7 separate regions of the Homo sapiens genome follow, and regions 1, 2, 3, 4, 6 and 7 are each linked to region 5. The links come from fine-mapping of genetic effects on gene expression. A gene starts in region 5. Each other region holds a variant in brackets. All regions are shown on one strand. Distances are between the middles of the regions.

Evidence for each region. PIP is the estimated chance that this variant, and not a neighbour inherited with it, causes the effect. A credible set is the group of variants that fine-mapping cannot tell apart.
Region 1: its variant is the best candidate, but not a certain one, in a credible set for the expression of GCNT1 in whole blood (TOPMed, PIP 0.64).
Region 2: its variant is the best candidate, but not a certain one, in a credible set for the expression of GCNT1 in whole blood (INTERVAL, PIP 0.65).
Region 3: its variant is the best candidate, but not a certain one, in a credible set for the expression of GCNT1 in whole blood (TOPMed, PIP 0.62).
Region 4: its variant is the best candidate, but not a certain one, in a credible set for the expression of GCNT1 in thyroid (GTEx, PIP 0.50).
Region 6: its variant is the best candidate, but not a certain one, in a credible set for the expression of GCNT1 in T cells (TOPMed, PIP 0.53).
Region 7: its variant is the best candidate, but not a certain one, in a credible set for the expression of GCNT1 in whole blood (TOPMed, PIP 0.67).

What each region holds. Positions count from the first base shown.
Region 1 is chr9:76,559,468-76,563,534 of GRCh38, forward strand. It overlaps LOC105376093 (a long non-coding RNA gene), which reads left to right. Exons shown (of 3, transcript XR_007061584.1): 1 at 1-1,398. Among named protein-coding and RNA genes, the nearest start is that of GCNT1, 100 kb to the left of the region's middle. The variant A/G (reference allele first, on the strand shown) is at 2,470.
Region 2 is chr9:76,661,671-76,665,737 of GRCh38, forward strand. All of the region lies in intron 9 of PRUNE2 (prune homolog 2 with BCH domain), which reads right to left. LOC105376095 (a long non-coding RNA gene) reads left to right here. Exons shown (of 12, transcript XR_007061586.1): 12 at 1,965-2,869. Among named protein-coding and RNA genes, the nearest start is that of PCA3, 100 kb to the right of the region's middle. The variant T/G (reference allele first, on the strand shown) is at 2,502.
Region 3 is chr9:76,633,420-76,637,486 of GRCh38, forward strand. It overlaps PRUNE2 (prune homolog 2 with BCH domain), which reads right to left. Exons shown (of 19, transcript NM_015225.3): 14 at 3,999-4,067; 15 at 3,052-3,138. The region is part of intron 6 of LOC105376095 (a long non-coding RNA gene); the gene reads left to right. Among named protein-coding and RNA genes, the nearest start is that of PCA3, 130 kb to the right of the region's middle. The variant A/C (reference allele first, on the strand shown) is at 2,271.
Region 4 is chr9:76,617,854-76,621,920 of GRCh38, forward strand. It overlaps PRUNE2 (prune homolog 2 with BCH domain), which reads right to left. Exons shown (of 19, transcript NM_015225.3): 18 at 1,487-1,534. All of the region lies in intron 5 of LOC105376095 (a long non-coding RNA gene), which reads left to right. Among named protein-coding and RNA genes, the nearest start is that of PCA3, 140 kb to the right of the region's middle. The variant G/A (reference allele first, on the strand shown) is at 1,878.
Region 5 is chr9:76,457,198-76,461,264 of GRCh38, forward strand. GCNT1 (glucosaminyl (N-acetyl) transferase 1) reads left to right here and starts at 1,985. Exons shown (of 4, transcript NM_001490.5): 1 at 1,985-2,108; 2 at 2,863-2,980. RefSeq lists silencers at 1,770-2,309, 3,300-3,369 and an enhancer at 2,920-3,029.
Region 6 is chr9:76,421,273-76,425,339 of GRCh38, forward strand. It overlaps a transcript of GCNT1 not described here. Among named protein-coding and RNA genes, the nearest start is that of RFK, 29 kb to the left of the region's middle. The variant C/G (reference allele first, on the strand shown) is at 1,724.
Region 7 is chr9:76,695,717-76,699,783 of GRCh38, forward strand. The region is part of intron 9 of PRUNE2 (prune homolog 2 with BCH domain); the gene reads right to left. Among named protein-coding and RNA genes, the nearest start is that of PCA3, 67 kb to the right of the region's middle. The variant G/A (reference allele first, on the strand shown) is at 1,777.

The DNA.
Region 1 (4,067 bases), 100 kb after region 5:
GGCAAACTTTTCCTGTAAAGGGCCTGATAGTAACTATTTTAGGCTCTGTGGCCATATGGTCTCTTTCATAACCATTTAACTCTGTGTTTGTAGCATGGAAGCAGTCACAGACAACATTTGAAGGAATGAACATAGGACTGCTCCAATAAAACTATAAAAACTGGGCATGGACCAGATTGGGCCTTTGGGCTATGGTTTGCAAACCCTGGTGTTGGTGAAACTGATTGTACTATTTGGCTTCATGAATATGACCTTATTCCTCCTCTGTCTTCATCACCATGATTTTTCCACTCCAGGAACCTCTTGCTCAGAATAATAAAAGTTGCAAATATCTTTGGAAAAATTTATTTGAATGAACATCATACTGTGGAACCCTTCACTGAATTGTAACAAATGGATTTTCTCTCCAAGACTCTTCAAAATTCTGTCTCAAAATTCTTGCCTTGCTGTGTCTACCAGTCCTAAACTACTATATCTCAAGCTCCTGCAATGAAAAGCTTGCTTTCATCCACACCCTCAAATATCATCAATATTCCAACTTATTTTTCCCTACTCAATGGCGAAGATGGTCAAGGTAGTGATCTCCCTGAGTGCAGTAAGCAATTAACTTCAGTGCTGTGTGCTAGAATTTTCAGAGTCCACCATAGTGAAGGGCTATCCCAGAGGAAGTTATCATGTTGTTTCTGTTGCTTTTGCTATCATGATTGCTTGGCCTCCAAATTAAAGGATATACTAATTCACTCATTCATTAACAAATATATATGTTGAGAGCTTATTACACACATGTCCTCATGCCAGTTAGTCTTGATAGACATGTATAAGTAAAAACCAGGCAACTTTGCTCTGTGGAAATATGATAGAAAAAGATAACCTTTCCTCCAGTGATTAATGACATTTATGTTTACTTTCTGGAACTTTAAAAAATTGTGTCACCAGGGATTTTGACATGGAAAGAAACATTTACTCATTAAAATCGAGAGCTTCTTGGTTTCTTCAGTCTCCTAGGTTCAATAATCCACAAGTCTGCAACTCATAGTGCATATATCCAGGAGTTTTCTGGAGGAATGCCAGGCATGGCTGAAACAGCAATCTTTTGACCATAACTACTGGGGGGGGAAAGCAGCCCTTGCTGTAATCATCGTTCATAAAAACTCTGGAATTTACTTGCACAAAGAGCTCATTGAGAGCTGACAGTTCTGCTACAGCCATTCCTTTCTTTCCAAGGAGGAAGCATCAGAAAAATGAGTGGCCCAGCTTGTGCCATTTCTGCAAAGGGAGTGTTCAAAAGTCGGTGCCTTGGGTATCAGCAGGCTTGGCTTCCCAAATGGGTGGAGGTAGCAGTGTGGTCCTGGGGAGAGTGCCCGAGACTCGAGTCAGGGCCTAACTCTGCCAACTGAGGTGAGTCACTGAGCCATGCAGGGCCTCTATGTCCTTGTCTTGGAAATGGACATGGGAAAACAGTAGCACCTCATTTACAGGAGGCTCGTGTTAAATCAGCCAAGAAGATGGAGATTAAATTGTTGTATAAGTCAGAATCTCTTTACCAGTGCTAGTCGCTGTTATTATTTCATTAAGGCATGGTTAGAGTTGCCATTTTAGCAGTTTTACAAAAGACTTCCCTCTCACCCCACCCTCAAAAGTCTTCCCCGTAGTGCCAGGATTTCTGTCAACAGAAAAGCAATCTTTCTTTATCCTATTTATCCTCTTCTTGTTTGGACTCTTTTAAAATGCAAGCACCTCCCCAAAGGCATAATACATCAAAGTAATTCATACTAACACAGATGTGGCTTCTTGAATGCTTTGTTTCTCTCAGGAGGGATCAGGTGGTTAAGGATGGATAATGAAGAAAAAAAAGATTACTAAAAAGCTAGGAAAAGTCATTTTAAAAAGGAGGAATGCCCACAGAATAACAGAATTGCCTTAGCCTTGCAGAATTAAAAGATTAATGGTTTTTGAAGTGAAATGTAGGCAGGTTCCTTTTATATAAAATAGAAAAAAATCAAAGCTATAGTGGGAGTCTCAGAGTCTCACCCACCATCTCAGCCTCACGCTGATCCCTCTACAGCCCACAGGCCTCTCTGTGGAATCCCAGGGCTCTGAGAACAGTTTGAAAACCACTGCTGGCTTACCCTCCACATTGCAGAGGCAAAATGACCTCCAGGAAGAGAGATGGAAACAGCCACTCTTCTAATCAAGTGCTGGTGGCCCTACATAAGAACAAACTAATAATAATCAACATTTATTGAGATCTTACTAATCCAACGCTCTTTGGCTAAATCATATGCATTATCTGATTTAATCTCCAAAACAACCGTATGGGGTAGGTACTAATTTCCCTCCCATTTTACAGATGAGGAAACTGAGGCTTAGAGAGGGTAGGAAAGTCAGACTGAAGCCAGCTACTCCCTTCTGTCATATTGTTTTTGAAGAAAACTTTTATTTGTCCCTCTCTGCCCCTTGGCACCACAG[A/G]TGTGATCTAGAATTTCTGTAGAACATATATTTAGATTTCAGTACAAACATACATTGTTTTTAGCCTGGATTGATATTTTAGAAGAGGAAGGAAGAATTTGAATTAAAATAGAAAGTTCTTTTGTGGGTGTAACAAGTGAGTGAGCATACAGGCTTAGGCACATGATGAGGTTCTATTTTCCCCCTATGTTGCCAACTCTGGGTCATTATTATTTTCTTTTCAAACCTAGCTTAAGCTTACTGAGTAAATGAAGAGGGGGAAAGTTGACATACTGCAAATAACAAAATACCCCACTTTAAAATCTGAAATTCATAGCTGGACCTGGTGGCACGTGCCTGTAATTCCAGTTACCCAGGAGGCTAAGGCAGGAGAATCACTTGAACCTGGGAGGTGAAGGTTGCAGTGAGCTGAGATCATGCCACTGCACTCCAGCCTAGGGGACAGAGTGAGACTCTGTCTCAAAAATAAAATGAAATAAAATAAAATAAAATCTGAAATTCCGATGGAAGAATTACTCTGCAAAGCAAAACAACATTAAGTGCTGTTACTGCAAAAAAAGAAAACAAATCTGAAACTAAGCTCATCATGGAAACTTTTAAGTGAACTCTAAAAGAGAGAAAGAGAAGGAAAGAAACCCAATGAATAAGGGCATTCTTCTTTCAGTTTAAATGTGCCAGAGAGAAGTGAAAAATACTTGATTCTCTCACTGGCAGGAACAGATAACCATTTTTGTATTAGTCACCAGCAAAGTCATCATTTACTTGGTTTTAACAGCTTCAGAATTATGAAATAGTAGTATTTCAAGACTCTGAACATTCTGCTTCAAGATGAGCCAGCCTCTCTTAGAGATAGAAAGATGAAAAAAATGGGGCAACTGACAGGCAGGCAGCTCATGCTGGTTTTTGAGTTATTTGTCTCATTCTTGTCTATTTGCAAGAGCTTGTTGCATGTTACAGACACTGACCCTTGGCTTTGGCATGACACATTTTTTTGAACTTTTTTTGTCAGTTGATTTTGTACCTGGCACATTTTTCAGATAAGGGATTTGTATCTGTTTATGTTCAAATATTTCTGTTTTTTTTTTCTCTTAAGTTTGTGGGATTCCAGTCTCTGTTAAGAAGGTATGCCTCATCTCTAGTTTGTACATACTCTAGGTTTTCTTACATGATTTTTTTGTTTTAGTTTGCATTTGAGACTTCATTCTTTTCTTTTCTTTTTTAAAATAGAGATAGGATCTAGCTCTGTTGCCCAGGCTACAGTGCAGTGGCCCAAACATAGCTCACTGCAGCCTCAAACTCCTGGGCTCAAGCAATCCTCCTGTCTCAGAAAGTAGGTGGGACTACAGGCACATGTCACGATGCTTGGCTACATTTAAATTTTTTTGTAGAGATGGGGGTCTCACTATGCAGCCTGGACTGGTCTTGAACTCCTAGCCTCAAGTAATCCTCCCGCCTCGGCCTCCCAAAGTGCTGGGATTGCAGGCTTGAGTCACTGTGCCCAGCTCTGAGCCTTCATTCTTTATGTAATTTATACCATTTTGTATTGTGTGAGACAGAGGTCTACTTTTATTCTCTTTTTGTGACTTGGTAGTTGTGTT
Region 2 (4,067 bases), 200 kb after region 5:
CTTAACAACATAGCCTCAAAATATGTAAAACAAAAATTGAAAATACATTATAAGGCAAAATAAATTTCATGGGGTAAAATCTGAGTATACCTCTCAAGAATTTATAAATTAATTTGAAAAGAAATATATAAGAATATGGCAGATCTGAACAATGCAGTAATATAGCTTGATCTAATGGAGAGATCTGCAGTCAATAAAAACACAGTTTTTTTTTTTTGAACTCACCAAAACTTACCATACGTGATGTCTCATAAAATACCAAAAGTCAACATCACATGTACTATATTCTCTGACTTCGGGGCCATACCTCTAGTTATCAATCACAAAAAGTCTCCAATCACAGTTTGGAGACTAAAAAACACACGTGTAAGTAACCAAACAATAAAGCCCTGCACATCCAAACTTGTGAAAGCAGCTAAAGAAGTTCCTAGAGGAAAATAAATAGCCTTAAGTTCAGATTTTAGGAAATAAGATGAACTGAATTAGCTAAGCATTCAACTCAGCCCAGGAAGTTATAAAAAGAAACATGCTCTTAGGTGACTTGATGCTATTTATGCTAAATCTTTGCACCTTCTCTAATGATCCTGAATACCACCAAATGGAGAAAGAACGGTGATAGAAATGGAAGTCTCCAATTTGAGAATGAAGCCCACGTATATTCGTAGATTGTGTGTTTCTGATACTTACATTTCTTCATATGGAAGGCTAATTGCAGTATGTGACAGAGAATGAAGGACAACAAATGCAGAACTTTTGGACATAAATGCACCTTCTTGCCTTTAGAACAGGTACAAAATTAAGCCCATTCTGCATTTTGTATTTTTTCAACGTATCTGAATCTGGAGGGATTTGACTGTTGTTGTAGGATTAGCTTTGCCTGAGATTAGGTTCTTTTTAACAGGAAATGAGCAGTGAGCCAAGAGCTGGCACACACATACCAGTAGCATTTCTAGATGGTAATGTTTCCTGACAGACACGGATATCCAGCAGCAGGTGGCACCCCTTTTCAGGAATAACCACTTTTACAAGATTGGCCACTGAAATATATACCTCCATAAAAAGTAAAGTAGCAGGTCATGACATGGGGTCCATTGTTCTTTAGAAAAATACTGACGGTTATGCTGATATATTTTGGGAAAATGATTACATAAAGAGAAATATCTCTTGTGTTAAGAGTTCCTTAATACTCTCCTGGCTTCTTTCTAGTCTATTAAGATCTGCTGGACTGATAAGGTTGCTGTCTCTAGAAACAGAGATAAAAAGAAAAAAGAAAACACAAACAAAACCTTTCATGAGGTGCTTGCCTTCCCTCGTTAAGAATATCAATTAGCCTATGGGCTGGAGGACTGCCATTTGAGGGTTCTTGTCTGATAAAGTAGGCTGCTCCATTTAAGCCAGCAGTACATGGCACCCTGTGAACCACAGAGTACTTATCAAATTACTCAAAGTAGGAGGTGAGACTGAAGCAGCACTGAGCTTCACACTTTGCCTAATCAAGCTAATCCCAAGACAGGAAATGCTACAATAGGAAGCTGGGGTCAAGCCCATGAAATAACGCTCTTTAGCAACAGTTCGCTAACCCAGCTGGGCCTCTCTCATCCTAGAACAGGTAAGCACTGTGGCCAGGCAGGGAGAAGCATCTTAGAAGCCAGCCAGCTGAAGAGAGATGAAGGAGGGAGGTGAGAGCTGGAAACTGACTGCACACAGTAGGAAGATAAGCGCCGAGCACTCGCCCAGACACCTTCTTTAGGGAATGTGCAAAACTGCAGAAACCACAGCTAAACATTCTCAGGTTCTCAGAGGTGGGGGACACGACGCAGCCTCCTTACCCAGGGTCAGATTCTAAAATTCTGCAGGGAGCAAAAAAATCACTTGTAGCTCAATGATCCTCAAACATTTTCTTGAATTGTTCCCTGAATAGAGTGTACATGGTTTTGCATGTCAATTTTTTTTTCTTTTTACAGTGAGGCTTAAACATGAAAATTTGAGGAACGCTGAGCAGGAATAGAAGGAAAGCCTACATTTTTATCATTTCAACCTCTTTGCTTTTCAGAGAATAATTAACTCCTTGGCTGTGAATGATGGATGCATGGAGAATTCTACCTCTTGCCTGCAGGCTATTTGCTAGCTTCTTTTAATATTTTTCCTATAACCTTAAGATCTATGAATAGATTTGTTTGTTGTGGAGAAGATTAAATTAGATGGCATAATCTCACATTGGAGAGGGGCATATACTTATTTAGGAAGTGAGTTTACAGTTCACAACCAGGATGGCTCAAAGGGATCTCAAACTGAACATGTTCAAAACCTAATCCCACATCTTCCTCTACGCAGATCCGCTACATCCTACCTTCTCTGTGACGACTTTGAAAAGTGTCCATGAATTCTTTGACACTCTTTTCAAAAGGTGGAGCCTAATTTCCCGTCCCTTAAGTGTGGACTGATGATTTGCTTCTAAAGAACAGAATAAGGTGGAATGGATGGTAGGTGACTTCTAAGGC[T/G]AGGTCCTAAAAAGCACTGTGTGCTTTGTTCTCTCTTGGGTCTCTCAGTCTGGGAGAAACCAGCTACCCTGTTGTAAGGACAGTCAAGCAGCCCTGTGGAGAGTCCATGTGGCAAGGAACTGAGGCTTCCTGTGAAAATCCAGGAAGGAACTGAAGCCTTCTGCCAACAGCCATGTGAACGAGCCATCTTGGAGGCAGATCCTGCAGCCTGGCTAATGTCTTGATGGCAACTTAACAAGATACCTTAAGCCAGAACCATCTAGCTAATACACTCTTGAATTCCTATTACAAACACTGGGAAATAATCAATGTTTGTTGTTTTAAGCTGCTAAACTTTGATATTATTTATTTTATTCATTTATTTTTTGAGACAGGGTCTTGCTGTATTGCCCAGGCTGGAGCGCAATGGAGCGATCTCGGCTCACTCCAGTCTCCATCTCCTGCGTTCAAGTGATTCTCCTGCCTCAGCCTCCCGAGTAGCTGGGATTACAGACGTGCACCACCATGCCGAGCTAATTTTTAGGAGAGATGGGGTTTCACCATGTTGGTCAGGCTGGTCTCCAACTCCCAGGCTCAAGTGATCCTCCCACTTCGGCCTCCCAAAGTGCTGGGATTACAGGCATGAGCCATTGCACCTGGCCGAGATTATTTATTATACAGCAATAGCTAACTAATACATTCCTCATCCTAGTGAATGTCTCTACATATCACCTGGGCACTCAAGCTCCCAAACTGGCATTCACTCTTACTTTCTTTTCTTTCCCACCATTTCTTCCTCATCCAGTTGGCCATCCAATCCTATAAATTTATGTCATCCTCTCCACTCCATTCTCACTACAAAAGCCTTAGTTCAAGTTCATTTTTTTCATGCAGAAACATCACCACCTTTCTGTTTACGATCGTCATCCCTACCTCCTCCAAATTATAACTAATATCCTTCTTCATCTTAACCTTGACACCACCTTCTTGTGTTTAAATCCTTTCAATTCACCACTTCAGGGAAAGAATTTGGCTTCAGAGAAGGGCTCACAAGGCCCTCTTGACCTGGCCCCTAAGCCCAGACTCAAGCCTCCTTTCTCATTCCCCACTCCCCACTTAGCCTTGCCAATCTTGCTGTCCTGTACTACTCAGTGTGGACATCTCCATCCTGGAACCTCGCCTCCATCCCACAGAATCGGGATCTGGGACCTCACCTCCACCCCACAGAGTAAGGTCCTGGGACCTCACCTCCATCCCACAGAGTGGGGACCTGGGACCTCACCTCCTCCCCACAGAGTCGGGTCATGTCCCATAGCACCCTGTGCTTACCTCACGTGGATGCTGCCATGTTCCTATGATTTCCTGTTTGAAATGTGTCTGCCCCCACTCCTCCCCACTGCCACCCTCTCCACACACACATGAATCTCCTGGGGGACAAGCACACCCAGTGCTTAGCACAGGGCTCAGCACATGGTGGAGATGAATGAGTCACTATTGAACAACACAGATTTAGACACGTGAAGGTGCCCTGCCCTTTGGGTAAAGTGCTCCTCAGAATGTCTCACCACATAGTGAAACTTGACCATA
Region 3 (4,067 bases), 180 kb after region 5:
AAATACAAAAACTTAGCCAGGCGTGGTGGTACATATCTGTGGTCCCAGCTACTTGGGAGGCTTAGGTGGGAGAATCACTTGAGCATGGGAAGGCAGAGGTTGCAGTGAGCCGAGATCGCACCACAGCACTCCAGCCTGGGGCAACAGAGTGAGGTTGTCTCAAAAAAAAAAAAAAAGTTTCATCAGAACACAGCCACTTACTTGTTTGCATGTTTCCTACGGCTGCTTTTGCTCTATAATGGCAGAATTGAGTAGCTGTAACTGAAATCATAGGGCCAGTGAAGCCTAAACTATTTACTAGTTGAATCTTTATAAACAATGTTTGCTGGTTCCTGCTTTAGACAATTTATTTGACCTCCCTGAACCTCAGCAGTTTTTCCTATATAATGGAAATAGTAAACAGTATCTGCTTCAGGCTGGGCATGGTGGCTCATGCCTGTAATCTCAGCACTTTGGGCCAAAGCAGGCAGATTGCTTGAGCCTAGGAGTTTGAGACCAGCTTGGACAACATGAGACCCCATATCTACAAAAAAATAAAAAAATTTAGCTGATTGTGGTGGCATACACCTATAGTCCCAGCTACTCAGGAGGCTGAGGTGGGAGGATTGCTTGATCCCAGGAGTCTGAGGCTGCAGTAAGCCATGATCGTGCCACTGCACTCCAGCCTGGGTGACTGAAGGCGACCGTCTCTCAAAACAAAAAACAAACAAAAAAGTATCTACTTCAGAGGACTGTCATTAGGTTAAATGAGATAATGCAAATAAGCACTCAATAAATTAAGCCATTATTAGTCATAATTTACCACAACACTGTTGCTATAATTTTATTATTACTGTTGTTGTTATTATCTTGAAGCTCCCTTCAATAAGTAGTGTTGAATTATAATAATGTTTAATAGCCTTACAGTAACAAATGTTTTCTTATTGTTAAACTACATTTGGCTTGAGGCTTTCTCTGTAGTTTGAGTTCCTAGGTAGCTAACTGCAACCTAACATAGTATGTAAACAAAATTCCAACCTAACTTATGAGTATATTTTTGCAAAGACTAGCTGAGTCTCAGCCAATCAAAGCAGCTGAGCTTCAGCAATCACAGGTTGCCAAATGATCAGACCATGACCATATAAGGCAAATGCTTCATCACACTGTACCCAAATAAGATAACTGCTGAGCTGTACCCAATCAAGCTATTTCTATACATCACCTTGCTTTTCTCTGGACAAATACTGTCTGCCCACTTTGCTGGGAGGAGCTCTCTGAACCTCTCCTGGTTCTAAGTCATGCTGGATTCATAAATCATTTTTTGCTCTAATAAACTGATTGATTTGTCTAAAGTTTATCTTTTAACATTACTTAATCAAGAAAAAACATTTGTTTTATAAGTGCTGAATTATTAAGCAAACATCGATGAATCAGTAACTATGCTAATGTTTACCTTTCTACCCATTAAACTTTTTGAAAGCTTATCAGCATACATTGATTCCTACTCCCTAGTTACAACATTTCCTGAAAATATTAAAATAAGTGGCTCTTTGTATACCTTAAATAGGTCTAATATTTTTGTTTGTTTTTTGGAGGCACAGTCTCACTCTGTTGCCCAGGCTGGAGTGCAGTGGTGTGATCTTGCCTCACTGCAACCTCCTCCCAGGTTCAAGCGATTCTCCTGCCTCAGCCTCCCTAGTAGCTGGGACTATAGGCACACCACCACCATGCCTGGCTAATTTTTTGTGTTTTTAGTAGAGATGGGGTTTCACCATGTTGGCCAGGCTGGTCTCAAACTCCTGACCTCAAGTGATCTGCCCGCCTTGGCCTCCCAAACTGCTGGGATTACAGGTGTGAGCCACCCCGCTTGGCTGCTCATAATATTTTTAAAAGCAATTTAACACAGTATGGTAAACAGCTAATCTTTGCCAGAGGGAAACTAGGGTGAATCCTGCTACTCAATTGAAGATAAATTGAAATTTTCCCATCTTAAAATTATTAATTAATTTCGTCTAAAAATTCTGATAACTTCGTTTTTTCAGTGGTTTCTTCTTGTGTATAATGAAGATAATAACAGTATATCATGTGATTGTTTAGCCTTCAGTTTACCATTTTAACAATTCTTGATTTTCAGGTATATTTTTCAGCATTAGCAATTGGAAGTGGGGAATAAGAATAATAAATAAATATAACTAAATACTTAACAAGAAAGGTAGAATTTGGAAGCTACAGTAAAATCTATGTACACACAAAAAAAAGATTTTAAAGTTTATCTTTTTCCCCAGAAGCAA[A/C]GTTATCAGAATTTTTAAAAGAAATTCATTAATAACTTTGAGATGGGAAAATTTCAATTAATCTAATCTGTACCCTGATGGTGGGCAAATTTTATTGTTTTTAAAGCTATCTAGAAAGTAAATACTATCCCTTTCATTTAACTATTTGAAGTCTTACTATATTATGAACATAACTTATTTTACTTTGCATCCCTAAGATGTAAGGTTATGCAAAACCTAACATAAAATAAGTGACAAATAAATATTCACTGAATTGAAACCAAGACTCCTCAGGGGTGATCAAAACACAGCTCTCAAAATGGCTGCCCAGACTCTATATAACTTTGGTAGTTATATAAACGTTGTGTAGGTCTATTCAGAAGAAATGGCACAATTGAGACATGATATGGCTTCTGTTTCTGCCCTTGATTCATCTTTACTTTCCATTGTCATATTACTCTACCTTTCTATTCTCTACATAATAGCATATCACTTTAAATGTATTATCTATTCTCCTTTCTAATGTGGCATGAAAATCCCACCACTTCATCTTCCGTGTTTATAGCAAGCAATTTAGAGGTCCTGTTTTATAATGATCTGGGGGAAATATTCATCATGACAGCATTTTCTCTCTTAATTCGGGATTCTTGATGAATAGTCCAAAGCACCTTTCTAGGAAAGACAGAGACAAATATATTTCCCTGGGTACTCTTAGTTTATGAATTCTTGTTTTTAGGACAATGAGTACATATTTTTTAAAACTACTAGTAGTACTTTTATTTTATGACAACATTAACTGTACCTTATAAAAGGTCGTGTCACAGCAAGGATTGTTCTGATGAACCAAGATGGATGAACAATGATGAATGATTTCAAATTCTTCCTCAACCTATTTTGAAAAAAGAAAAAAAATACATTACTCTTAACCCATTTTCAGTGGGAATTAAAACATAAAACATATTCCTAAATAAGAATATATATAATTTAAGTCTGGCATGGTAGCTCATGCCTATAATCCCAGCACTTTGGGAGGCCAAGGCAGGCAGATCACCTGAGGTCAGGAGTTTGAGACTGGCCTGGCCAACATGTTGAAACCCCATCTCTACTAAAAATAAAAATAAAAATAAAAATAAAAAAATTAGCTGGGCGTGGTGGTGCCCGCCTGTAAGTCCTGGCTACTCAGTGGGTTAGACAGGAGAATCGCTTGAACCCAGGAGGCGGAGGTTGCCGTGATCCAAGATCATGCCACTGCACTCCAGCCTAGGCAACAGAGTGAGACTCCAACAACAACGACAACAACAAAAATGTGTGTGTGTGTGTGTGTGTGTGTGTGTGTGTGTGTATAATTTTAGGGAGTTCTATGCAAGTTACTATTACCTGGTAGGAAGATATAGAATGGCCATGATTAATTACAAGAATGCTTTTTGAGATGTAATTTGAAACTTGTATGATTCAAACGTCATTTTCTCATAGAAGTAAATGTAAAATAGAATGGTTGTGTTCTTAGAGTGCATGAATCTATAACCAACATGGTGTATTTTTGTTTAATGATGCTTTTATTCTCGTCAGTATTACCTTTACTATTTTGAAAAGAATACATGCTTAATAGCAACTTAGACAATTTATTTGATCTTATTGAGACTTGGTTTCTTCTTGTGTATAATGAAGATAATAACAGTATACCATGTGGTTGTTTAGTCTTCAGTTTACCAAAATCAAAATAGTGATTAAATAATAGAGCCCACATACCGTCTGTCAATCATCTGGTAGCATTTCTTCATCCAGCCTAGCCCTGGCATCCTCCTTCTTGGGGTTGCA
Region 4 (4,067 bases), 160 kb after region 5:
TCCACATGTGCCCTCTCTGCTGCTTGTTAACTGTGGGCTCTGTTAACTGCTCAAGGGGGGTGCTGTTTTGCTGAGGGAAGAAATAGTTGCAAAAAGAATTATCGTGCACTGGGGAATTGAGGTATTATTGCTTTGCAGAATTTCATGTGCCAATTTCCTTGAAGCAATTGTTATCTTCATCTAAAAGAGGTGGGACAACAGTGACCTTTGGAAAAATAGCTGTGTGATTTCAAAGGTCTCTCTATGGTCTTTGTTCTTTTTTTAAAATTTTATTTAGAAAAAATAAATTTTCCTTGCAGAGCAGGGCTAACTCATAGGCATGCATCCAGAATTGGCCCAGTCTTTGCTCTTTGTGAACTTTTTCAGTTGGGACTGTCTCTGGAGTTTTTGTGCCTAAACTTCCTTTAAGTTGCAAGGTCAACATGGCAAATGTGAAGATATTTCACTATAATTTTCCAACTTCCTTTTGGACCTCAACGCAAAGGAGGTCCAAAGACAGCAAAAGGTGACAATAGAGATGAGACACATTTAAAACTGATCTTTCCCCTCTGCTTCCTGATTGCTAGGAACAAGGGCAATGTTAAATTCTCCACAACTCAAACCAAATTGGAAGCTCCTTGTCGGATGACCAAGTTCTCTCTGAAAGCTTGCTGGTGACCACAGTTTATTCCCTGAAACTGACTTGGCCACTAATTCGCTCTGTTCTCTTAGGTGAATAGTTTTGTCTTTCATTAAATTGGAAGTGGTACACCCATCTAGCATTAAGACCACCTCTTTCTGATTTAAAAACCATTGGCCCTGGAGCTATACTGCCAAGGTCCAAATTCCAGCTCTGGGCCATTTTTACAGCTGTAAAACAGTGGGCTGGTCAGATCGTCTCTCCATGCCTCTCTTTCCTCATCTGTGAAATGTACCTCATAAACTTATTCTGAGGATTAAAATCAGACACTGCGTGTGAAGCTTTTTACAGTCTGGAACGTGGTTAAGAACTCACTACATGTCCAATTTCTGCTTCTCACAGGATGGCAATCCTCTAAATAGATCATTCCTACAGTCTCATACAGGCTCGAATTCCTCCTGGATGTTGCAAAACAAGCACATTTTCTCTCCATCCACCAAAGTATTAAATGGAAGTTCCAACTTCCACTAATTAAAATAGAGATGATGTCATTCAGAAAGCAGAATTGCATTCCTCTTGCCCAAATGTTCTTACATCTGGTCCTAATATTCATTTTCTTCCCATTTTTGGATTGGAAAAATAGAATGCCATGTCCACAGGTTGTCCTTTAGAAATTTAAGGGGTGATCGTGAATGAAATGGTGTGAAGCTGGCAAATATAGCTTCAGGTTTCTAATTTCAGGAATGGAGCACAGGAAAGCTGAACATCTAAACAGGGTTTACCCAGTCCTCAGTGTGTTTTCTTTCAGAGCCCAGCCATACAACACTACAAGTAACCACATAGCTGTTATTGATGGTGAATTCTTACTCCTTCTCCATAGAAGACATTTCTGGATCATTGTAAAGGCAGCTAGTTCTGAGTGCAAGGAAAAAATAGGAAGCAGTCAACATTTCCCCACTGTCACCACTGTGAAAGCACAACAGATTTGAGGCATTTGAAACTGTTTAATGTGGTCCCATTGCTAATACTGAACAAATCCATACCTGAACAGATGATAAGATTAAGCTGTAACCCTTACCATTGGTTTTGAAATACAAGTGATTGCCCATGATATAAAAACACAAAGCAAAGATTAAAAACTCCAAACACCTCCAGTGGTCTCTTCTGTCCTCATTTTTCCCTGCCTTTTCAATTTGTCTTATTCAGGGGACATATTACAAAATTGTTTTGGTACCCCAAATAATAAAATACACACAGA[G/A]GAAAATCCCTCTCAAGCAGCCTAATTTTATTCACCCATGAACACAGTTAATTTTCAGTTTTCACGAGAATGAGGATTTCCCAATACACTGAAAGAAAAAATGTCAGCGTCAGCTCTCCTCATTGTTGTTGTTACAGAAATAACAGGACACTTACCACTCCATACAGCTGAGCTGTGTCCAGGTGATACAAATGAATCCTACCATTTACCTCAACTGAGTATGCCCAGAAAACAAATGTAACCTTATAAAATAATAAATAAAAGTGTTTTTATGGCATTTATGTTTTTTGTGTAGTATTAGCTGTTTTTGATATACTGGTGTGATTTCTCTGTGAGCAAATTTCAAATTTGCTTCCTATTAATTCTTGATGAATACTCATTACACCTCAACTTTTATACCCCTCCCATAATTTTTTTTTTTTTTTTTGAGACAGAGTCTTGCTCTGTCGCCCAGGCTGAAGTGCAGTGGCACTATCTTGGCTCACTGCAACCTCTGCCTCTCAGGTTCAAGCGATTCTCCTGCCTCAGCCACCCAAGTAGCTGGGACTACAGCTGCATGCCACCATGCCCGGCTAATTTTCATATTTTTGGTAGGGGTAGGGTTTTGCCATGTTGCCCCAGGCTGGTCTCAAACTCCTGGACTCAAGCGATCCTCCTGCCTCGGCCTCCCAAAGTGCTGGGATTACAGGCGTGAGCCACTGTGCCCGGCCTCCCATAAATATTTTATTATTGACAAACAAACACTATTCTATTTAAAGAGCTTCTATGATCCTTTTTAAGTGCAGTTGTCCTCTTAGTAATATAATTTCACAAGCTAATTTATCTGTTTGCACATAAGAGGATCCATGATGAAGGTCAGGTGTTTTGTTGAAAATGACAGGCGGCTATCTCCCCAGGTGAGATAGCAACCTTCCTTTCTCACTCCCCACCCTTCTTGCTGGTGGTCTGATATTTTTATAGGGAATATTTGGGAATTCCAGTGAGCAAGGACAGTCAAGTAAGTGTTGACAGCGTGCTAAAAAAAACCTAGCAAAGCTGGAATGGAATCAAGAAAGGGCAATCTTCCAAACTCAGCTTTTCTGCTTTTTAATTTTGAGTAATCCTCCCAAGGAAAACAGCAATTTGCAAACCCTTTAATACTGTCACTCCAAAGGCAACACACGGATGCTTCCCAATTTTCAAAATAAGAATGGTTCTAGGTATACTATTTATCCTTCAGAAGTATAATACTTTCTTTCCTGTATACAGCTAAGGTTTTAAAGAAAAGATAAGGCAGGCTGAGGAAATCACCTTCTGAAGTCAATTAGAGTTGGGGTGCAGTTTGAGTGGTGGTATGTGTGTGTGTGAGGGGAGAGGGAGAATGTTGAGAAACTAGTGGGCATAAAGCAAAACAGTGGACAGATAGGTTTTGTTCCCTGACCAAGTGTACGTTTGCCTTTGGTTAGACCTAGCCTGAAGCTTTCTGAACAAGTCATGTGGAAAGTCAGGCGCATCTGTCAACAGGAAGAACCTGGGCATGTCTGGCTTCTAACCATAGATCTGCAGTGATCATGTTTATCATACAGTTTCTCCTAGAATTCAGGGGCTACTTCAGAGGCTAAAAGGTAGTTGAAAAAATGTTGCTGGTGGCCGAGATGGTGGGATTCTAAGGCATTCCAATCACCTGTGGGGTCAACAGAGTAGAATTTTTTCTCTGTACACATTTTCAAATGTGCAAATATATTTCAATTCCTCATACATGTGATGTTACCATCAAAAAGGTAGGATCAAAAGATCCTAGAGGGAGGATTCTTCAGGCAGATGGCTTACCCACTGAATCCAAAGCAAGAGCATAGACCTCCAAAACAAATCTGATTATTTTTATTTGGCCCTTGACTTTTAGGCAGTGGTTCTCAAAGCTGGGTCCTGAGACCAGCAGCATCAGCATCACTGGGAACTTGTTAGAAATGCAGACTTTTTTTTTTCTTGAGACAGGGTCTCACTCCGTTGCCCAGGCTGGAGTGTAGTGGTAAGATCAATTAGCTCACTGCAACCTTGAACTCCAGGGCTCAATGGATCCTCCCACCTCAGCCTCCCATGTAGCTGGGACTGCAGGCACATACCACCATACTTGGCTAATTAAAAAAATTTTTTTTTGTAGAGATGGAGTCCTGCTATGTTGCCCAGGCTGGTCTCTAACTCCTGGCCTCA
Region 5 (4,067 bases):
ATTACAAGCGTGAGCCATTGCAAACAGCCAGCTATATTTTATTTTTAATTAATTAATTTATTTATTTTTGAGATGGAGCCTTGCTTTGTCACGCAGGCCAGAGTGCAGTGGCACGATCTCAGCTCACTGCAACCTCCACCTCCCGGGTTCAAGCGATTCTCATGCCTCAGCCTCCTGAGTAGCTGGGACTGCAGGCACACGCCACCGCAGCTGGCTAATTTTTGTATTTTTAGTAGAGACGGGGTTTTGGTATGTTGGCCAGGCTGGACTCAAACTCCTGACTTCAGGTGATCCACCCACCTCGGCCTCCCAAAGTGCTGGAATTACAGGCATGAGCCACTGTGCCCAGCCCCGGCTATACTTTAAACTTATGTTTAGCAATTAACATGTCAGTATTTTAACTTACAAATGACTCAGACATTTAATGAATATCTATTACTTAATTTAATATGTTCGAAATTTCAAGTCACCAAAAAAGATTTTTAAAACTATTTTTAAGTAGACAAATTTTATAAAACAAATTATTTTTAAAAGTTTATAAACTTTTATTCCATTTACATTTACCTAATCTACTTGCTCTTAACAATTATGCTTGAATTGCTCATGAAAAATTTCATGAGATATTAAACAAAGCTAGCCATTGAAGGAGTTCAGGAGTTTTTCCCAAAATCATTTCCTCTCCCCTAAATTGTCCCTCCCCAATGAAGAGGATACACAAGCTCCTAAAATCTCAGTTTTTGTTGGGGGAGGCAGAGGGAATATTAGTTTTTCTTTTCTGTGATACCCCCTACACGAAATCTGTGTACTTTTTCTCTTGTTAATCTACCTGCAGTCAATTTATTTCATAGACTTAGTTATCCAAGCCTCAGAGAGTAGAGGGGAAGTCTTTCTTCCTCTATACCATCATCTTATGTTAATTTTTGTTGACAAATCAGGCAAGTGTCAAACATATCACAGTCTAATGGCCTCTGAGTTGGATTTTTTTTTTTTTTTTTTTTTTTTTGAGATGGAGTCTCGCTCTGTTGCCCAGGCTGGAGTGCAGTGACACGATCTCGGCTCACTGCAAGCTCCGCCTCCCGGGTTCACGCCATTCTCCTGACTCAGCCTCCCGAGTAGCTGGGACTACAGGCGCCCGCCACCACGCCTGGCTAATTTTTTGTATATTTAGTAGAGACGCGGTTTCACCATGTTAGCCAGGATGGTCTCGATCTCCTGACCTGGTGATCCGCCCGCCTCGGCCTCCCAAAGTGCTGGGATTACAGGCGTGAGCCACCGCGCCCGGCCAGAATTTTTTTTAAACAACATGGAAACAAATAAGACCTCGTTCTGTTTTCTAGGAGCTAAAAATCCAACGAAAGAAGACACAGACACAATATTCCCCTTGTTACAAAGAGAACTGTGTCAACTTTTATAACTGACACAAAGATCTGTGCTATAAGGGCGGGGAAGGTTTTTTCCTACTTTCCACAGCACTGTGGATTGTTCCACAGTTTAATTTGATCTTAATTTTTATGTGGAAATACACATGAATGTAATGAGTTCTTAAATGCTAAATTTAGGAAGCAAGGTTCGTTAGGGGAGAGAAAAAAACACCTACATGGTTATCTCTAAACTTTACATATCGAGAACCTTGGAATTTAATTTTATTGTTGTTCTGTAACATATTTTCATGTTTAAAATCAGAAAAGGCAGCATTTCTCGAGTTTCCTGCTTTCGAGGAAGGGAGGCATAAAATGTTTAAAAAGACGCCGCTCACACACCTCTTAAGAATCAGAGCACAGTGAGGAAGAGGAGCGAGGAAGCACTAGGATCGCAGCGCTACTCCCAGACCACGTCAGTGCCCAGAGGGCGCCCTCGCCTGTAGGCGGGAACCGCGAGTCCGCAGCAAGTCCCCAGCCCCGAGCTCGCGCAGGTGGGCGAGGCGGGGACGTGGTGGGCGGGGCCTAGAAAGGCGGGGCCTCTGGGGGCGGCCCCGGGGCGGGCCACGCTGGTGTGAGGGCTGCAGGCGCAGCTCCGGAGCGCCTAGAGCGCGGCGCGGGGCGGGAGCTTGGTGGAGCAGGAGCGGCTGGGCATCCTCCTGAGACTCCGGGGTCAGACGCCCACTCCAGGTAACCGGCTCTCCCTCGTGTTCCCCTGCTCGGCCGCCCGGCGGTGGGGGAAGGCTGAGAAGGATGGGTGGGAGGGAGCCGGCTCTCAGCCAGTGCCCCGTGGCCCCGGGCGGGCTGGGCTCCCCCGCGGAGGAGGAAGCAGAACCGGGGTGCGCCCGGGACCGGAATGGAGCGGCGCCTCTTCCTTCCACCTTCATTTTCCGTCCGCTCAGTGGGGCTGGGACGCCGGTGCCCCGTGTCCCCTGAAAGTCACTTTCTGGCCTCTTGCCCCTGGTCCGTGTAGCTTAGATGTCGGAGGGGTTGGCTGCGGGCGTGGATAGGCAGGGAACGAACAGACTCGCTGCCATCCCATGGGTGCCAGGGGCTTAACTTCATTTAACTTCATTGAATCCTAACGCCAGCCCGGCTAAGATGCATTTTCACCCCTACTTTACTGATAAAGAGGCCAACGCTAGGATAATAAATGACTCACCCTGGAGCAAACTATTACTAATAAGAAAAGAGACGTTAGTTTAGGGGCTCCGAAGCCTCTCCTTTCCTGCTCCCTCGCTTTCCTTCTTCTCGCGGCAGTCTAGGAAACTCGCGCGCAGGGTCTATTACGAAAACAAGTGATTCGTCTTAAAAGCATTTTACCCCCTCCTAGGTTTCTCTTTCCTCTTTTTTTTAAGTATCTCAGGCAGATTCCTCCAAGTTTTGGTTATTAGGTTTTTGAAATGGAAGAAGCCCTTGCTCACTGCTTCTTTTCTCCTGGCAGCGCTTTCTGCGCAGCACAGGCACCCTCGCCTGTCACGCCTCCCTCTCCTCTTCCCGTCTCCCAGCGTGGATGAGGGCGCCTGCAGATCCCGGCTAGGGCACGGACCGCCTAGGCCGAGGTAGGTTCTGTAGGCACCTGGCATGCTGTAGATGCATATAAACGTTGCCCTGTACACCCTTTGCCTTGTTATTTCTTTCTGCAGAAAAGAGAGTCGGTTTTTTACACATAATGGGGCAAGAGGCCAATTGGGAAGATATATGGTGTTCAAAGAAAGCCGTGGTGCCTTGAGATGAGAATGCGGCCACAGCTTTTTGTGGGCTGAATTTGATGGGTGGGAGGTGAGAGACGTGGTCTGGAAGTTGTCTCTTCGTCTGGCATTCTGCCCCCCTTCCAGAGCTGTTCTGAAAGGCCGGTTTGTTTTATAGAGGGGAGGAGGAGGGCTTAGTAGTTTTTAAAGATCAGTGTAAATTACCTGCTAGGAGCTTAGGCAATTCCAGGCAGGCCCCCCTGCTGGAGGCTTTCGTAACAGATTTCAGTTCTAGCAGGGAGGAAAACTCAGACTGTGTAGATACCTGCTTTTTCTTAAAGGAATTTTTTTCGGGCCCTTAAAATGGTAGTTTTGGGAAACTGATTTCTTAGAAATGGCAAACTCCTTTATTTTAAAATACAATATACCAAACTATGAATTTACTTTTAAAAAGTTTTATTGGCCGAGAGGTTGATATTTTTTCCATTTCATGATGAGGGTTTGACGGTCACTGCCACCTCCTCTGCCCGTCCTTCAACTTGGCCCTGTAAAGGATCTCCTTAGCCTTGGCCCCAAGTTTGTACTAGATTCTATCCTTCATTAATTATAGTTCATTCTTGATTAATGATAGCAATGCTTCCACTCACTTTTTAAGGAGTTACTCCTTTTCCGTTTGTAATTGAATTGCTTAACAGTAAGAAAAACGTTTTTCCCTAAAACTGGGATCACAAAATCCACTTTATCCACATGGACTAAACAGGTAATGCACAAGAGTGCTTGGTTGGGCCCAGGTGACTGCAGAGGAACCTGCTAAGGCTGGGTGGATATTGGCCATTTCCACCGAGTATCCATGCAGGAATTCCCATTCAGCCATACAGTGTAGGCAGCTTTTTTTTTTTTTTTTTTTTTCCACGAATAGCTGAGAACTTTTACTTAAAAATAAAAAATGTAAAGCCTG
Region 6 (4,067 bases), 36 kb before region 5:
CCTGGACAATGCCAGCATTTGGATTTTTACAAATAAGTAAATGTTGGCTGGGCACAGTGGCTCACACCTGTAATCCTAGCATTTTCGGAGGCCAAGTCGGGCAGATCACACGAGGTCAGGAGTTTAAGACCAGCCTGGCCAACATTGTAAAACCCCATCTCTATTTAAAAAAAATACAAAAATTAGCTGACCATGGTGGTGTGTGCCTGTAGTCCCAGCTACTAGGGAGGCTGAGGCACGATAATTGCTTGAACCCAGGAGGGAGGCTGAGTGAGCCGAGATGGAGCCATTGCCCTCCAGCCTGGATGAGAGAGCAAGGCCCTGTCTCAAAAAAAAAAAAAAAAAAAAAACCACAACAAAAAACAACCCACACAATTTAATGTCTTATTGATGGCAACTCAATTTGTTTGTAGGTTGTTTTTTTTTTTTTTTTTTTTTTTGGAAATGGTCTCACTTTGTCATCCAGGGTGAAGTGCAATGGCTCAATCACAGCTGTCTGCAGCCTCCACCTCCTGGGCTCAAACAATTCTCCTTCCTCAGCCTCCCAAGTAGCTGGGACTACACATGCAAGCCACCACACCCGACTAATTTTTGTGTTTTTTGTAGAGCCAGGGTTTTACCGTTATGTTAGTTCATTCTTAGGCTGCTATGAAGAAATATCCAGGACTGGGTAATTTATAAAGAAAAGAGGTTTAATTGACCCACAGTTCTGCATGGCTGGGGAGGCCTCAGGAAACTTACAATCATGGTGGATGACACCTCTTCACAGGGCAGCAGGAGAGAGAATGAGTGCAAGAAGGGGAAACAGCAGAAGCTTATAAAACCATCAGATTTCATGAGAACTCACTCACTGTCATGAGAACAGCATGGGAGAAACCACCCCCATGATTCAATTATTAATACCTCCCACCGGGTCCCTCTCACGACACATGGAGATTATGGGAATTAAAATTCAAGATGAAATATGAGTGGGAACACAGCCACACCATATCAGCCATGTTGCCCAAGATGGTCTCGAACTCCTGAGCTCAAGAGATCCACCCGCCTCGGCCTCCCAAAGTGCCAGGATTACAGGTGTGAACCACGGCACTCAGCAGTAGCATCTTAATCTACGGTATATTTCATCCATTCACTATGCAGATAGATAGTTCTTGATTTATGTTAATTTTATTTATAATTTTTTGGCTTTATTATGGTGGAACAATGATATGCATTCAGTAGAAACCATACTTTGAGTACCTATACAACCATTCTGGTGTTTTTTGTTTTCATTTTGTTTTGGTTTTTTTGAGACAGGGTTTTGCTCTATCACCCAAGCTTGAGTGCAGTGGTGTGATTATGGCTCACTGCACTCACTGCAGCCTTGACCTCCTAGGCTCAAGTGATCCTCCCACCTCAGCCTCCAGAGTAGCTGGAACTACAGGTGCATGCCACCATGCCCAGCTAATTTTTGTATTTTTTGTAGAGACTAGGTTTCTCCATGTTGCCCAGGCTGGTCTCAAACTCCTGGGCTCAAGCAGTCTGCCTGCCTCAGCCTCCCAGATTGCTGGGATCATAGGCATGAGTCACTATGCCTGGCCTAACCATTATTTTTTTCACTTTTAGTACAATATTCAATAAATTACATGAGATATTCAACACTATTATAAAATAACCTTTGTGTTCAATGATTTTGCCCAATGGTAGACTAATGTAATAAGTATTCTGAGCACATTTAAGTTAA[C/G]CTAGGCTAAACTATGATCCTCAGCAGGTTAGGCATATTAAATGTATTTTTGACTTAAGGTATTTTCAATTTATGATGGATTTAGCAGGACATAACCCCATTGTAAACTGAGAAATATCTATACTTTTCTAACTTAGTCGTCCATGATCACCACCACCATTGCCATCACCCTTGCCATTAGGCATCATGTTTTCCTCCTTGGAGGTTGCCGTGGTTTAAATGTGTCCCCCAAAGTTCATGTGTTGGAAACTTAATCCCTAATGATGCAATGCTGTTGGGAAGTGGGGCCTAATTGGAGGTGTTTTGGTCATGAGAATTCCAACGTCATGAATGAATTAATGCCAATTATAAAAAGGCTGACACTGTGAGCTCATTCTCCTGCTCTCTTGCACCCTCCCTTTGCCTTTCCCCCATGGGATGATGCAGCAAAAAGGCCCTTGCAAGATGCTGGCCCCATGACCTTGAACTTCCTAGTCTTCAAAACTGTAAGCCAATAAATTTCTGTTTATTATAAATTATCCAGTCTCATGGATTCTGTTATAACAGCACAAAACAGACTAAAACAGAGGTCAGTCATCACAGTTACCAGTTTTGGCAAGCTTTTAATGAACAAAAGAATCACTTAATTTGTACTGCAAAATGGCATGTTTCCTGCAGATCTGCAATGAGAAAGGAACAGATGATGTTACGCTTTTTTTCTCAAGCTTCCATGAGATGGGGATTCAACAACTCTTCTAGGAATAATATAAGCTATGACATAGTTTGATGAAATCCATAGAAGTGAATTGATTTAATGCCATCATTAAAATTTCCACTGTAGAATGGCAAGGAATTTATTGAGATAGTATCCTTTTTGTTGTTGGTGTTTCTAAATACAATCTGAAATAATTTGTTAGATCAAAGGCTTGCTTTTCCTTGAACCTGACAGAGTTGGTTCACAGTAAAATTTACCACATCAGAACTATTTGTTGACATATTACTTTCTACCTTGCATTCAGCACTAGATGCTAGAGATTACAAAGAATGGTTTGCCTTGGAATCAAAGGTGTAGCAATTGACTGTGTAAACATTTTCTGAACTGTGATGTTGCTAAGAAGCCAGCAGGAGTGGGGGAAGAATTGAAGAGTGAAATGAATATCCATCCTTATAGACAGGCAAAAATCAGACTGTAATATTTTGTTTAATCTTATAAAAAGTATCTAGTATTTCAACACTTTAAAAGTCCTTGCATTTTTCAAAAGCTAGGCAGAACCTGGAATCAAGGCCTGGGTCCTGGGGAAGCAGTCTGTGCAGCAGGAGCCTGCCTCGGGTGCACATTTGAACTAGGGGAAAAAAAGTTGTTTCTACCTGTAGTGCCTCTCCAGCTTCCACTACTGACACAGCTTAACATTGTGCCAACAGGCAAAGGAACAATATTTAAAAGACCTAGGTCCATTTTCACAGAGTAGGTAATGAATGAATTTGGAACTGAGAGGCAATAAATGGATAATAGCACAGCAATTAATGTGGACTGGTGTCGGACTTCAGGTAAGGCTGGATCTTGGAGTAGCCCAAAAAGTTTGTAATAAATAAACTCTTTTTTCATCTCAAAAAAAGAAAAAAACTAGATAGACAAGACCTGGGCCTTAAAGTCTTTCTGTTTCACAGAGCACGCTGAGTAATATAAAACTGGATGATAGATAACTAAATCTCTTTTTGTGCCCTATTCAAAATGGAAAGGTCAAAAGTGGCATATTGGTGTTAAGACAAAGGTGATTCATTCACCACACCTCAGAAAAGAGTAAAAATGAAATTAGCCATCTTGTAACTAAAATCAACACAAATGTACTTGGTCTAGAACTTTCAATAAAAAAGGACATCGAGGCTGGGAGTGGTGGCTCACGCCTGTAATCCCAGCACTTTGGGAGGCCAAGGCAGGTGGATCATGATGTCAGGAGATTGAGACCATCCTGGCTAACACAGTGAAACCCCGTTTCTACTAAAAATACAAAAAATTAGCCAGGCGTGGTATCACGCGCCTGTAGTCCCAGCTACTTGGGAGACTGAGGCAGGAGAATGGCGTGAACCCAGGAGGTGGAGCTTGCAGTGAGCCGAGATCGTGCCACTGCACTCCAGCCTGGATGACAGAACGAAACTCCGTCTAAAAAAAAAAAAAAAAAAAAAAAGACATTGAACCATCACAAAAAGTTCACATGAAAAACGTCACCCAAAGCTAGTAAGGAATAGTATTTTAATTTATTTTTTCAGACAGAGTTTCACTCTTGTTGCCCAGGCTGGAGTGCAATGGCACGATCTTGGCTCACTGCAACCTCCGCCTCTCAGGTTCAAGTGATTCTCCTGCCTC
Region 7 (4,067 bases), 240 kb after region 5:
TTTTCTATTCATTCAATCAGGCCTATTTATGGGGTGTCTAACATGTGGCAGGTGCTATTCTAAGCAACAGGGGTACCGTGATGAACAAGACAAACCAAACTCCTGCTTTCTTGGGGGTTATACTCTCATAGGTGGAGACAGATGCAACAGAATCAATTAAATAAATAAGTAAATAGAAGATCTTTTCAGATGGAAAAAAAAAAGTAGTAGCAATAAAATAAGGCAGAGAGATGGAGCAGAGTTCTCGACACTGGCAGTGTTGACATTTGGGGCTGGATAACCCTGTGTGGCGGGGGGCACTCCTGTGCACTGTAGGATATGTAACTGCATCCCTGGCCTCTGCCCATTAGATGACAGCAGTACCCACCCCAGTTGTGACAACCAAAATGTCTCCGACGTCAGCAAGTATTCCCTGCTGGTTCAGAACCGGCAGCTTGGACTTCTACAAAGGGTTACCCAATCCTGCACTGACTTTTTGATAGCCTTTGTTCCTGAAGAACTCTTACATAGATCTCAGAAACTGATCCTCCAATGTACTGGAGAAACAGTTAACTAATCGTGCACAGGAACATCTCAGGACAGTTTTCAGAGGCTGAGGTCCACCACTCTCCAATTCGGCTAGCTGCACTGAACAGCTTCTGTTTGCTTCGTCAGCTCTACTCTCCTACTTTCTCCATTTTGCTTTCTGCCCCAAGCCTCCCTCACCCTCCGACTTCCACTAGGTTTTTTGTTTGTTTGTTTGTTTGTTATCCAGGCTGGAGTGCAATGGCATGATCTCGGCTCACTGCAACCTCCCCCACCCAGGTTCAAGTCATTCTCATGCCTCAGTCTCCCGAGTAGCTGGGACTACAGGTGCCCGCCACCACACCCAGCTAATTTTTGTATTTTTAGTAGAGACGGGGTTTCTCCATGTTGGCCAGGATGGTCTCAAACTCCTGACCTCAAGTGATCTGCCCGCCTTGGCCTCCCAAAATGCTGGGATTACAGGCATGAGGCGCCACGCCCAGCCTCCACTAGGTTTTGACCAGTGAGGATCCCTGGTGGGAGATGCGGGGGAAGAGGCGGGAGTGCCTCCCGCTGGCCGTGTCCCTCACACTAGGTCACTATGCCTTTCAGGGTGGCCTTTTCTACCTGAAATAGTCTTTCTGGGTTCTGGTCATCACTCTGTCTCCCCACTCCTGGGGTCTAGGAAGAATAACAGCCGTACTGCTCCTGTTCTTGGGCTACGCACTATTCCTTGTGAGTTCCTCACACTTTGCCTCCATCTTCGTAAATACTCTCTTTATTAAATCTCTCAAATTTTCCTAATTTGAATGTGTCATCACTTTCTTGCTGTGCCCCTGATATGCGAATATACCCTGCTTTCGAAAGTCATGGCTTCTTGTCTTCCTCAAATACCAGCAATTTTCATAGAGATTTTTTTCCCCCTAAAGCAAGCAATGCCACTAGTTGTGATGTTTCAAGTTTCCAGCCAGAGAAGCACCTTGGGTTTTTCCTCAAACTAGAAGCCAATACAACACAAATGGACTCCTTTGTGGGCGTTCCTCCCACGGGGAAACAGAGTTGCACCACCTCATCTTGGCACTTGTGGCTCTCTCTGGCTGTAAAATCCCTCACCACAAAATACCACACCTATAAATATTTGGAAAACGTAAATGAACATTGAGGGGCTTTGATGCTCTCCCTTCCCTCTGGCCTCCAACCACTCGAGTTGGTCCCACACACCACAGATGGGGAGCAGCCCACTGACATGGCACAAGCACTCACAGATCCACC[G/A]TGGGAGCAAATATTTACTCAGGTATCAAAAAAGCCCAGTAGGTCACAAGACAGTCTGAGGAGTCAGGCATGGGTTCTGGCTCAGTCTGTCTCAAAATATCTCCTGTTACACTTTATGTGCCTTTCAACGAGATAACGGGAGAACAGGAATGAAAACATCAACCTATAGAAGCAGCTCAAGAGAAATGCTTGTTTGGGCAGCTGTGTTTCATTGACAACCACTGGGCTAGACAGAGAAGACTTAAATTTAGGTCCTAACCTCACCACTTTCTCATTTCTGGATGACATGAAGCAGTTCATGTGTTAAGTCAGTTTGCTCATCTGGCTGGGAAATGGGGAGAGGAACACTTGCCCTGTCTATCTCAAGTGTCATTTGGGTGGACCAAAGAAAATAATCTATTTGTCAGTCTGCAAGCACTTACTATGGAAAGTCTGCTCTGGGTAGGGCTGGCCAGAAATGTAGAAGTGGGTGGAGGGCATGACAGAGAGAGAAAGCAAGAGAGAAGAAGGAAATGAAGGAAAGAGACTAAGTCCTGAATTAAACTGCAAATGTAAAGGATTTTTTTTTTTTTTTGACAAAGTTTTGGTCTTTCACCCAGGCTGGAATGAAGTGGTGTGATCTCGGCTCACTGCAACCTCCGCCTCCTGGGTTCAAGCGATTCTCTTGCCTCAGCCTCCCGAGTAGCTGGGATTACAGGCGTGTGCCACCATGCCTGGCTAATTTTTGTATTTTTAGTACAGACGGGGTTTTGCCGTGTTGGCTAGGCTGGTCTCAAACTCGTGACCTCAGGTGATCCACCCGCTTTGGCCTCCCGAAGTGCTGAGATTACAGGCGTGAGCCACCGTGCCCGGCAAAGGACTTTTAATGATACTTATCACCACCAACTCACCAACATACCACACCAACAGATCAAATATAATTACAAAAATAAATGAACACAGAGTCAGTGCTAAGTTTGTTCTTCCAGGTTTGGTACAGGGCAAAGCCCAAAAATGGTGAATAGGCAAGGGCGCACTGGAGTTTAGAGAGCATCAACTCACCTCTGAGAAACGGCAAATGTTCAGAACTGGGGTACAGCTTGGTCTGCCTGATGTTTCTCAGGGTTCCCATTATCCAACACTGAGAGAAAGAGTCAACTGATTTTTAAAATCTATTTCTCATTTTCAACATTCACGTGGATAAAAGACCCAATGTACTAAACTCCCCAACCATAAGTCATAGACAGAAAAAGTCTGACTTCACGAAAAACAAAAAGATCTCACGGTGTCACTCATAAGCAGAAAGATAAATTCTTTTCTACAATGTTATCAGACATGAAAAAAGGTGAAAATTACTAATTTAAAAAGAAAAGATGCAGACAGATCACCATAGAACCAAATACACTGTGTTCGAAGGTCATCTTTATTTCAGGGAATACTGAATACCTCACCTCACAGAGCTAGGAAACAAGATACAGCTCCACAAGTATGAGGGTCAGGTGATGTCTCAATACTGTTTCAAAAGTACATGACACAACGATTTCCTCTCTTCTCCTTCCCCACCCCACCCCCACCCCCTCCCTCCATCCCCCATGGCTGCCTGTATCTCCAAAAGATTCATCAGTTGAATATCATCCCTTTTCTCAATCCTCTTGGAAATGATTTTTTAAAATTCCCTTGCACATTATTTCCTTGCTCATATCTATGGAAAGCCAATATATCTATATATCGATTATCACATTTTCATATAATTCAGATAGTGACTTTTAAAATTTTAATGACTTAATCCTTGTTTAACATATAGATCAGATTTTTTACTATAACCTGTGATAGTTAATGTTTATGTTTCGACTTGGCTAGGCTATGGTGCCCAGTTATTTGGTCAGACACCAGTTTAGATGTTGTTGTAAAAGTATTTTTTTAGATGTGATTAACATTGAAATAGGCAGACTTTGAGTAAAGCAAATTACCTTCCATAATGTGAGGGGGCCTTCATCCAATCAGATAAAGGTCTTAATAGCAAAGTCTGAAGTTTCCTGAAGAAGAAGGAATTCTCCTGAAGACTGCAGCCCAGAAACCTGCCTGCATTTCCAGCCTGCAGCCCTGCAGAACTCACATTCACGACTGCAATGCTGACTCTTCCTTGAGTTTCCAGGCTGCCAGCTTGCCCTATAGACTTCAGACTTGCCAGCCCCCATAATCGCATGAGCCAATTCCTTAAAATTCTCTCAGTAGCTAGCTAGATAGCAAGATGGAGATCTAAATACAGATATCTCCTATTTGTTCTGTTTTTCTGAAAAACCCTAACATGT